Regions from separate parts of the Homo sapiens genome. Here region 1 is linked to region 2. The links come from fine-mapping of genetic effects on gene expression. A gene starts in region 2. The other region holds a variant in brackets. All regions are shown on one strand. Distances are between the middles of the regions.

What was found. PIP is the estimated chance that this variant, and not a neighbour inherited with it, causes the effect. A credible set is the group of variants that fine-mapping cannot tell apart.
Region 1: its variant is the best candidate, but not a certain one, in a credible set for the expression of C11orf87 in gastroesophageal junction (GTEx, PIP 0.59).

Annotation. Positions count from the first base shown.
Region 1 is chr11:109,381,277-109,386,652 of GRCh38, forward strand. No RefSeq gene overlaps it. Among named protein-coding and RNA genes, the nearest start is that of C11orf87, 38 kb to the right of the region's middle. The variant T/A (reference allele first, on the strand shown) is at 2,577.
Region 2 is chr11:109,419,244-109,424,619 of GRCh38, forward strand. C11orf87 (chromosome 11 open reading frame 87) reads left to right here and starts at 2,947. Exons shown (of 2, transcript NM_207645.4): 1 at 2,947-3,020; 2 at 4,132-5,376. The coding sequence starts at 4,391. The coding sequence ends at 4,984.

The sequences.
Region 1 (5,376 bases), 38 kb before region 2:
AATAAGAGGGATTGTCATGAAATAATTTGTCTGGGGAAAGACATTTTATCTAATTTTTCAATTATCACCCATTTCTCTGAAGAAGAGCCCTGTCTCTGAGAAAATGGGGGCACAGGGGCAGCCTAATTTGATAAAGAAAATGAGGTAGTGGCAGCATAAAGTTGCTTCATCATAGGTCATGTGATTGGAGGATCTGTGGTGTTGGGGAGCAAGAAAGGGTCCTGCTGTATTAGTCCCTTCTCACACTGCTATAAAGATACTACCTGAGACTGGGTAATTTATGAACAAAAGAGGTTTAATTGATTCACAGTTCCACATGGGTGGAGAGGCCTCAGGAAACTTACAATCATGGTGGAAGGCAAAGGCGCAGCAAGGCACATCTTACATAGTGGCAGGAGAGAGAGAGAGAGGGGAAGCAGCAGACCCCTATCAAACAGCCAGCTCTTGTGAGAACTCACTCCAGAACATCATGGAGGAAACCGCCCCTGTGATCCAATCACCTCCCACCAGATCCCTCCCTCCACATGTGGGGATTACAATTCGAGATGAGATTTGGGTGGGGACCACAGAGCCAAACCATATTGTTCCATCCTGGCCCCTCCCAAATCTCATGTCCTTCTCACATTTCAAAATGCAATCATGCCTTCCCAACAGCTCCCCAAAGTCTCGACTCATTCCAGCATTAACACAAAAGTCCAAGTCCAAAGTCTCATTTCAGACAAGGCAAGTTCCTTCTGCCTATGAGTCTGTAAAATCAAAAACAAGTTAGTTACTTCCAAGATACAATGGGGGTACAGGCATTGGGTAAATGTTCCCATTCCAAATGGGAGAAACAGGCCAAAACAAAGGGGCCACAGACCCCATGCAAGTCCAAAACCCAGTGGGGCAGTCGTTAAATATTAAAGCTCTGAAATGATCTCCTTTGACTCCATGACTTACATCCAGGGCACGATGATGCAAGGGGTGGGCTTCCATGGTCTTGGGCACCTGGCAACTAGGGTGTAAGACAACATATATAAAAAGAAAAGAGTTTCAAACCCACTTCATGACATCAAAGGCCAGTTCTGTTTGTGAAAGACTCATACATCTCCAGTATTTCCTACCCAGAAATTTGTAGATGAATATTGGTTTTATAATTTCTGCAGCTTTCCATTAATAAAAGGTCATTCCTTTTTGTTCTTTTCTTCTTTGGCCAAAGAGGGAGAGACTGTAAAACACTGACACTGACTAGGCTGCAGGCAGCATTCTGATTCTTGGTTTACCAGGGGTTCTGATCTTGGAGAAGCCAAGGTGACATCTTAGGCAGACAACAGATAATACACTAAGAGAAGAGAACTTAGAAGCCTCATGTTGCATGTTGGGTTGACAGATGGGGTTTGGGATGGGAGGGAATAGTTCTTCAGTGCAATCAGCAAAGGTGCCCAGGGCATGAGCTTGGGAGAATCTGACAGAAATGAACAACTGTGTTTCGATCAACCATCTGGAAGCATGGCCTAATGTCAAGCCAGGGCCAGGTGGAGGATGCGGGCCAGTGATCTGCAGCTGGACTTAGAGAAGAGCGACTGGATTCCCATGGAATGGCAGCAGTGGGGGATGCTAGAGTAAGCCCTCAGTTTGGTAACAGCCTAGGCAGCAGCTTGATGTGCAGCCTCTGTCCTGGGTAAGATGGCCTCACTGCCCAGGTCTCCTCTTGGTGCCTCCATCTGTCTCTCAGCTCTGCCTTGCCTTGGGCAACTATTCCGTCCTGGTTCTTTTCTGCCTGGCTACTGGGTCTCTAATGCAGTACTTTTCCCTGCTCCTCAGTTTGCTTGTATGCCTATATCCCTGATAAAAGTGTATGAATTATTCAACTAGTCTTTTCCTGCCTTCCCACCCACTTTATCCCCTTCTAGAGCTGCTAGTAATCCCAGAACGAATGGGGTCCTAGTAGGGGAAGACATATCCCAAGGGCATCATCATCTTATTATTATTAGGCAAGAATGCAAATATATACAACAGGTAAACCAGCTTTATTTCTGCAAGATGACACTGAATTCAGCTAGGCAGCTCCTCAATTTGGCTAGAGTTGAGGGGGAGCATGAGTTGGAAATAAATCAAACCAGTTGGCTTAGATTGACTGGTCATTTCAGCCCAAATGCTTGATCACTTTGCACTGAGTAGACAGGTTTAGAGAGCTTCCAAAACACAGTTCCCATAGCAACTATACAAAGAAGAAATGGCAATAAGAAGCAGTGCATGTGGAATTTATTTTATCTTTTCTTGCCTGACTTCCTTTTGTCCCATCTCATATTCCCTTAGGCGCTGGCCATCTGGGTATGTTCTTTTTTTCTTAGCAGTTTTCCCCAGGAAAGAACTGTGTTTAAAATGCCCTTTCTTACCTACCTCTGACTGACAGAATGAGATTGTCATTTGCAATTGTGAACTGGAGCCTTTTGTGTCTCTAATGAAATCCTGACTCAAACTGTCCCTGTCCTTCTTGCTTGAACTTCACTGGTTACATTTGCTATAGGATTAGGGAGTTCATTGCAAAAGGGATTAAGATTTTTGCTCTGGGACCTGTTTTGGTGATTTCTTTC[T/A]GTAAGGGAACACATCATTTGGCACATAGCAGCTCCTGTAGCTCTGAAAACCTCAAAAATCGAGCCTTGAAGTCTCATTCCACTACTTCCTGCCACCCTTCTTATCACTAACAAGTAGATGATTCAGAACAGTCTATGTTTTGGCAATTTACAGACTGATGTTTAATTCAGCCTCCTTTATTGATCTCTATCTTGATTCAAATGTCCATCTTCTGAACCTTGAAAAATATCTTCATTAGAATTATACTGAGCTTCCTTTTTAAAATAAACACATAACACAACAGAACAGGATGTCTCACCCAAAATTCATTTCATTATGTCTAAAACAATTTATTTCTTCTCATTTTTGAAATCTCTTTCCCTAAGAATTCCCTCTGTTTTCTGTTTCTAATACATGTGTAAAGAGGTTTGCTTGAAGTTGCTTGTTTATCCCCAAATCACAAAAGCAGTTGCAGACTTTCTTAACCATTTCTCTGAGGTTACATGTCAGATTTCCTTAGATTTATATTCAAAGTCTTCTAGAGGTTTATCCCAACTTACCTTTGCAGTTTATACCAAAACAAAAAAGATGTAAAAATCTTTGGCTTCTGTCAAAATGGTCTGTTCACTGGGCCCCCAAGGCACCTTGCCATTTCCAGCTACCTACCTAGCTTTGCTCATGCCATTCCTTTTACCTGGGATAACATCTGTCTTCTTTTAAGCAATTAAAAATTTTCTTTCCCACTCTCTACTTCAATTTCTATCTCTTTTTAAAGCCAATTTTGATCATAAACACACACACTTATTATTACATGCTCCTTGTTTTGGTGTTGGTATTGGCGTGTAATTGCTGTATGAGAAACTGCTGAAAGATCAGTGGCTTAAACAAGCATTCTTAAGCTTAAGCGTCCACAGTTCAATAGTGATTGATTCAACTGATTTAGGATGGGCTCATCTGGGCAGCTCTGCTGCATGCTAAGAGTTAACTGAGATTGGCTCCAGATGAGAAGTTGGGCTCAAATCTGCCCCATGCATGTTTATTTGGGGGCCCAGGTTAAAGGGGCAGTGATTACCTGGGGTATCTTCTCTTGGCAGACCACTGAGTGTGAAAAAAACCAAGCCAAACACACAAATACTCTTAAGGCTTCTGCTCAAATCACATTCACTTTAAGACCAGAGCAAGTTATGTGGCCAAGCCCGAGATCAGCTGGGCATAGAAGTCTACTCTTCCCACAGTGGGAGGAGAAGAATATTTGCTGACCAAGAATGCAAACTCTCATGGAATTCTTCATGTATTGCAATATCCCATTCCCATGTAGATATGCTGCATCCACCTGAATGGATAAGCTTCTGCTTGAAAAGTAGAACTATACTTTATCATTGTGCTCTCCACCCCTAGCACTTATGCCAATGACAGACAGATAGCTGGACCCAAATTAATATTGGTTTATCTGTTATTTTCACAGCATATTTTGGAGCAGTTTTAAGTTCACAGCAAAATTGCGAGGAAAGTACCGAGATTCCCCATAGTCTGTGCCCCCACATTTGTAGCTCCTCCCATTATCAACATCCCCCACCACAGTGGTACGTTTCTTATAACTGCTGGACCTACATTGACACATCATTATAATCCAAACACATAGTTTACATTAGGATTCACACTTAGTGTCGTACATTCTATGGGTTTTTTGACAAATGTTTAATGACATGTATCCACCGTTGTAGTATCAGAGTATTTTCACCACCCTAAATTCCCTGTGCTCTGCCTGTTCATCCTTCTTTATCCATTAGCCACTGGCAACCACTGATCTTTTCATTGCTCTGTAGTTTTGTCTTTTCTGGAATGTCATATAGTTGGAACTATACAGTATATAACCTTTTCAGATCGGCTTCTTTCACTTCGTAATATGCATTTAAGATTCCCTTCATGTCTTTTCATGGCTTGATAGCTCACTCCTTTATAGCACTGAATAATATTCCATTGTCTGGATGTACCACAGTTTATCCATTCACCTGCTGAAGGACATCTCAGTTTCTTCCAAGTTTTAGCAATTATAAATAAAGCTGCTATAAACATTTGTGTGCAGGCTTTTGCATAGACATAAGCCTTCACTTCTTTTGGGTAAATACCAAGGAGCACAATTTCTGGATTGTATGGTAAGAGTATGTTTACTTTTATAAGAAACTGCCAAACTGCCCTCCAAAGTGGCTGTACCATTTTGCATCCCTGACGGCAATGAATGAGATTTCATTGCTCCACATTCTCACCAGCATTTAGTGTTTTCAGTATTCTGGATTTTGGCCATTCTAATAAGTGTAAGGTAATATTTCACTGTTGTTTTGATTTGCATTTCCTTGATAACATGATGTGGAGCATCTTTTCACGTTTGTCACTTGCGGCGTATTATTTTCACCCTTACTATATACCAACAGATAACCCAGCATTAGGTTCCAAGGATGGTCTGGATGAGAGTAGTTCCAAGGGATGCCATCAGTTTGGAGTAAACAATGACTATTTCCACATTCCCAGCCATTTTAAGGCCTATGTAGTGGCACCACTAGGTAGCTGTGGTTAATGAAGATGGACAGGTAAAGGTATCTTTATTTAAATTGTACACTACTGGGTCAGTTTGGAAAACAGAAACACTGAAAGATGGGACCCTGCTCAGAAGTATCTCTAGGAGCCATTCTAGTCTACTCAGGGGCAAAACATCGGTTGTCCATTTTTATTTTTGTAGAAGTAATGACAGCATATTTGATAATAGGCTCCATCTACTTTTGGCAACAACAGCTCTCTTTTTCTTTTTCACTCTGCCTACTC
Region 2 (5,376 bases):
TTTAGGTACAGGTGCCCATGTGGCACTTTTATCTAAGTTAGATCGAGATTCTTCATTAAACTTGAAAGCAAATATTAAATGCTCTTAAATATTTGGAACATGCTTATGTCCAGAGGGGCTTTCCCATTACAAGGGAAGATTATAGGAATCTCAGGAGCTTCTTGGTTCTCTACTCTTGGGAGTGTGGCTTGTGAAGTTTGGTGGCGAAAATAGTGGCAACAATGGTGTTGTCTGGAAGAAGCCTTGCCATTCAGCCAGATGTGCCAAAAATCATGTGGCAACTCAGTGGGATCAATTCCTGCAGTCCAAGAGGTGCCCATATTTGCTGTCATTGCTCTTCCTTGGGTTTAAAACACACTACCCAATGACATCCAAATCTACGTATTTAGTACATTTGTCCTCTGGGTAAGAATAAATTATGAACCTACTGCCTATTCTTGAAAGAGAAAAGACAAAAAAGGGTACTATGCTTTTGATCTGAAAACTAATGTCTTTAATCTACCTAAATCATTGCTAGTTAAATACCATTTTCTGGTGAATCACATTTATCTGCTGTAGAGTATAAGTTCTCCAGATTAAGATCTTGTCTTTTCATAGGGTGTATAAAATAATGCACACAGCTTTAGCACTCCTGGTATAACAGATGGCTATCATTTGTAACAAAAGAATAACATTGGAAGCCTTCTGACATGTCCTAGAAGCTTGGTGTGCAAGAAGAATCCCATTACATACATATTGTAATCCCATTACAACATGTTGTAAAGGTATATTCCCCATAGGGAAAGCCCAATAACTAATTCCTTCAAATCTAGAAAACAGACGACTGAGAGTTAATTTTTTTTTTTTTTTGAGATGGAGCTTCACTCTTGTTGCCCAGGCTGGAGTGCAATGGCACAATCTTGGCACACTGCAACCTCTGTCCCCCAGATTCAAGCCATTCTCCTGTCTCAGCCTCCCGAGTAGCTGGAATTACAGGTGCCTGTCACCATGCCCGGCTTTTATTTATTTATTTATTTATTTATTTATTTATTTATTTATTTATTTTGTTATTTTTAGTAGAGACAGGGTTTCACCATGTTGGCCAGGCTGACCTCTAACTCCTGACCTCAGGTGATCCACCTGCCTCAGCCTCCCAAAGTGCTGACATTACAGGCATGAGCCACCGTGCCTGGCCAAGAGTTAATTCTAATTGCATAAAAATTCTTTGCTTTACAAAATAACATTTTTTAAAAAATTTTTTATTTTTTGCTAAAGAGTCTCTTGAAATAGCCAGATCTCTTTTTGGAGAATCCAAAATTGGATTTGCTTTACAAAATGTTTATTAGACTCAACTTTTCAGGAGCAAAGCGAGTGTGAAAAAATGGGACATTGCCTGTCAGGCATCAATGGTAAAGTGTCACTTAGTCACAGCGTAAAAAATAAATAAATAAATAAAAAGGCTCACCATTCCATCCCCTAAGCCCACCAAAGTCAAATTGTCCAAATGTGGCAGGTGGCTATTGCAGGCATCTGGTGCTCTCATTCCAGTCAGGAAGGTGAGGCTAGCATTGGGGTGGGGGCGGGGGGCAGACATCAGTAACTGTATGACCCTAAACACAGAGTCCGAAGAAGGGACCCCCAGATTACAGACAGCCTTTCCTCCACATATCAGACCCTCTTTCTTTACAAATACAGCAAATACAAGCAGATAACTGGGCATCAGTCATTTCTGATGCATTGCAGGAAAGAGCAACAACATACACTGTATCATTCAATTTATCAAGTAAACTACAGGCACTGTGCTAGACTCAAAGATAGAAAAGAAGACAGGGAGCAAAGAAGAAAACGCACGTTTAGTAAGACACCTGAGTGCCTTCAAAGACCATGCAATGTCTTTAGGTACTGTTCCCAGCTAGCTTCTCCAACAGAAAAATGAGCATACTCCATTTCAAAGCTGGATTCTGTAACCAAATGCACTATTCATATTTTTCCAAGGCTCCTAAACCAATAGTTAACTAGTCTCTTCCAAGATTTAGGGAGGCTGTTGAATTCTTTTCTGGAAGTTCTATGTATTTTGCTAAAAGTTGTGCTCCAAACACTTTACCAAGAATTAGGGTCAATGAAGGGGTACTTTGTGCAAGCTACAAATACTTGGAATTTTCATAAGGCAGTTCATTTCTGCCTTCCTGTGAATAATTTCATATTTCTTCCTTGTAAGACTAGGGTTTGTGTGCTCATGAGTGTCTAGATTGTCAGAATAGAAGGAGTGTTTAATACATTGAGTGGGTCTGGGGCCTGGAGATGAAGATGTGAGGGATGCAAGAAGGAGGATCTTGAATCAGATGGAGCGAAAGATAACTTGGAAACTCCAGTGGAGAAAAATGGCTAATTTGGATTGTTTAATTTGTTCAGGTTTGTGTTTTGGGTTCTGTCACACTTATGTTGAGAAACGTCCCTGCCATCTCTCTAATGCACGCAGTTTATGTTCAGAAACGGGCAGCACAGAGAGGAATTAGCGGTGGGGGAAATTTTCATCACCACCGGTGATGTGTGCACCGATGGTAGATGGCTATCCAGAGTGTAAAAATGTGATTCTGGGACCAAAGGGTCAGCTCTAGAACGAAATCAGACAGCTGGAGAACTGAAGATTCAACTCTTCCTAGGCAAGAGAGTGAGAAAGGTGGGTTGCTTGCAGGGTGGAGGTAGGGGTTGCTCCTCCTAGTTCCTGGGCTGGAGAAGGGCAGGGAACTGGGAAGTGTGTGTCAGAGGCTCGCTATGCTAGGACAAGGTGTTGGGGTACTAGGGTGGGTGGGGGCCTGAGGGGTGGCTTGGAGCCCTGGCGGTGGCTGCCTGACGTCACCGGCCTCTCTGGCAATAGGCTGCGAGCTCAGCTCCCTGAAGCGGCGGCGAAGGCGGCGGCGGCGGCGGCGGCGGCGGCAGCAGCGCGGCTCGGTCTCTGGTCCATTCACTCCACGCTTTCTGCAGCCGCCACTGCAGCCGCGCGGCGGGGGCTCCCTCCTTGCAGCCAGCCGGCGGTCCAGGTAAGAGACAAGGTGTGAGTAAAGGCTTCTGATGGCCGGGTGGCCTGACGGCCAGGTGCGAGTGGGGAGGACAGCTCACGCGGCCTGAGCAGCCACCCCTGGCCATAGCTCCAGCCCCCGCCCCTGCCCCCGGCCCCTGCCCTGGCTTGCTTGCGCGCTACCTCGCTACTCCGCAGTGCAACAGTTTGCAGCTGCCTCTTGGGAGCAGCAAGGAGGCTCTCCTGTGCGCTGCGGGTCTACCGGCTCCAGTATGCCGGAAAAGCCTCGGGGCCTTTGGGCTGGGTCTGGGAAGGACAGAAAGAAGGTCCCGTTCCCCAAACTTTGCAGGCGGGAACCCTCCCCTTTCCATTCCAGCTCCTCTAGAAAGAAGCAGGCTACTGCCAAGTTGGGGGCACAGGGAAATGGGGAGGAGGGGGCCGTTTGTGGGAATGTGTCAGCTGAGAAAGATGCTTCAGCTGCTTTTTTTTTTTTTTTTTTTTTTTTTTGGAGAGGGGAGAATACCAGGGAAGAAGGCTGGAGAAGAGATGGAGCGCGTTCCTGCGCGTCAGCCGCGGTCGCGGACAGAGGCAGAGTGGGATGTGGTGCCAGGGGTATCCCCCTGGGAATGGGACCCAAGGGATCTGACGCTGTCCAGGGAGGGCGAGTCTGGACGGGGAGGGAAAGGAAGGGAGGACTGCGTACCCGGAGCCCGCGCGGCGGCCCGGAGTGGGTGCTGGGAAGGGTAGGATCCAGGCGAAGACATCAACCGAGAGGGCGCAGAAAAGAGGAGAGCCGGCGCTCTGGGAAGTAGGGACTTCAACCAAAGCGGCTGCGTGTCTGTTGCAATTATAAAGTTGTGAAGGGCGGAAGGGAGGCTGCCTTATCTGCTGAGTAATCTGCACCTCCGCGGTGCCGGCGCAGACCCCATCCTGTCGAGTGGCATGAGCAGGCTGCTGGTGGCTCTGGTGCACGGCCACGGGCCGGCAGGCTGGGGTCCGCTGACCGAAAATACAGGCAGCGCCCAGCTCAGGCAGTGTGCCCAGAGGGCCGCTTTGCGGTGGTGGTTGATCTTTCCCGACAGCACTCCCCTGGGCAGCGGCCGAGATTCTAACTAAGCTTTGTGTCTTTGCAGCCTGGTGCCTCTGCAAAGGAAAGGGGAGCGTGGAGACGTGTTCGAGGTGGTATCGGCGAGGATCTCTCGGGCGCCGCTCACTCCTTGGTCGCCTTGCTTGCCAGCAGTTGCTCCCTTAGTCCTTGGCTCGCTCGCACACCCCCTCCCGCTACAGGGAGCAGTTTTGGGTGGCGTGGGCTCCGTCCTCTTCTTGGCTGGTAGGAACGGTGTGCCCAAGAGGGGAAGCCTAGTGGGCCTGGCCCCTCCCAGCCCCGCGCCAATGAGTGCCAGGGCGCCGAAGGAGCTGAGGCTGGCGTTGCCGCCGTGTCTCCTCAACCGGACCTTTGCTTCCCCCAACGCCAGCGGCAGCGGCAACACGGGTGCCCGCGGCCCAGGCGCAGTAGGCAGCGGCACCTGCATCACGCAGGTGGGACAGCAGCTCTTCCAGTCCTTCTCCTCCACGCTGGTGCTGATTGTCCTGGTTACCCTCATCTTCTGCCTCATCGTGCTGTCCCTCTCCACTTTCCACATCCACAAGCGTAGGATGAAGAAGCGGAAGATGCAGAGGGCTCAGGAGGAATATGAGCGGGATCACTGCAGCGGCAGCCGCGGTGGCGGGGGGCTGCCCCGACCTGGCAGGCAGGCCCCAACCCACGCAAAGGAAACCCGGCTGGAGAGGCAGCCCCGGGACTCTCCCTTCTGCGCCCCTTCCAACGCCTCGTCGTTGTCCTCTTCGTCCCCTGGCCTCCCGTGCCAGGGTCCCTGTGCTCCTCCGCCTCCACCGCCAGCCTCCAGTCCCCAAGGAGCACACGCAGCTTCCTCCTGTTTGGACACAGCTGGCGAGGGCCTTTTGCAAACGGTGGTACTGTCCTGATCGTCTAGCCCCTCTCGTTCCCCGTCCTCGTTTCCAGCATCTTTGCCACCCTTGCTTTTTTCCTTCTTCCTTCCTTTTCCATTTTCCTCTGGCCCCTCTTTCCTCTTCCTGGTTTCCTTACCTGCCCTCCCCTTACTCTTGTTTCTCCTCCGCCGAGGCACTGTGCGGTATTTGTAAATATTGGGCGAGGAAAGTCTCGGAAGAAGAAATAACGCTGATAATAATACTTTATTAATATTTATAGTAATTATTATAATACTAATAACACAATCCAAGCGCATGACAAATCACATAATTTCTAACTGTCAATGGAGGATGCATCTTCCCATTCCACCCCGCGCTCCCCTCAATTAGGAGGAGAAACCGCACAAGCTACCAAATATATAAAAGGC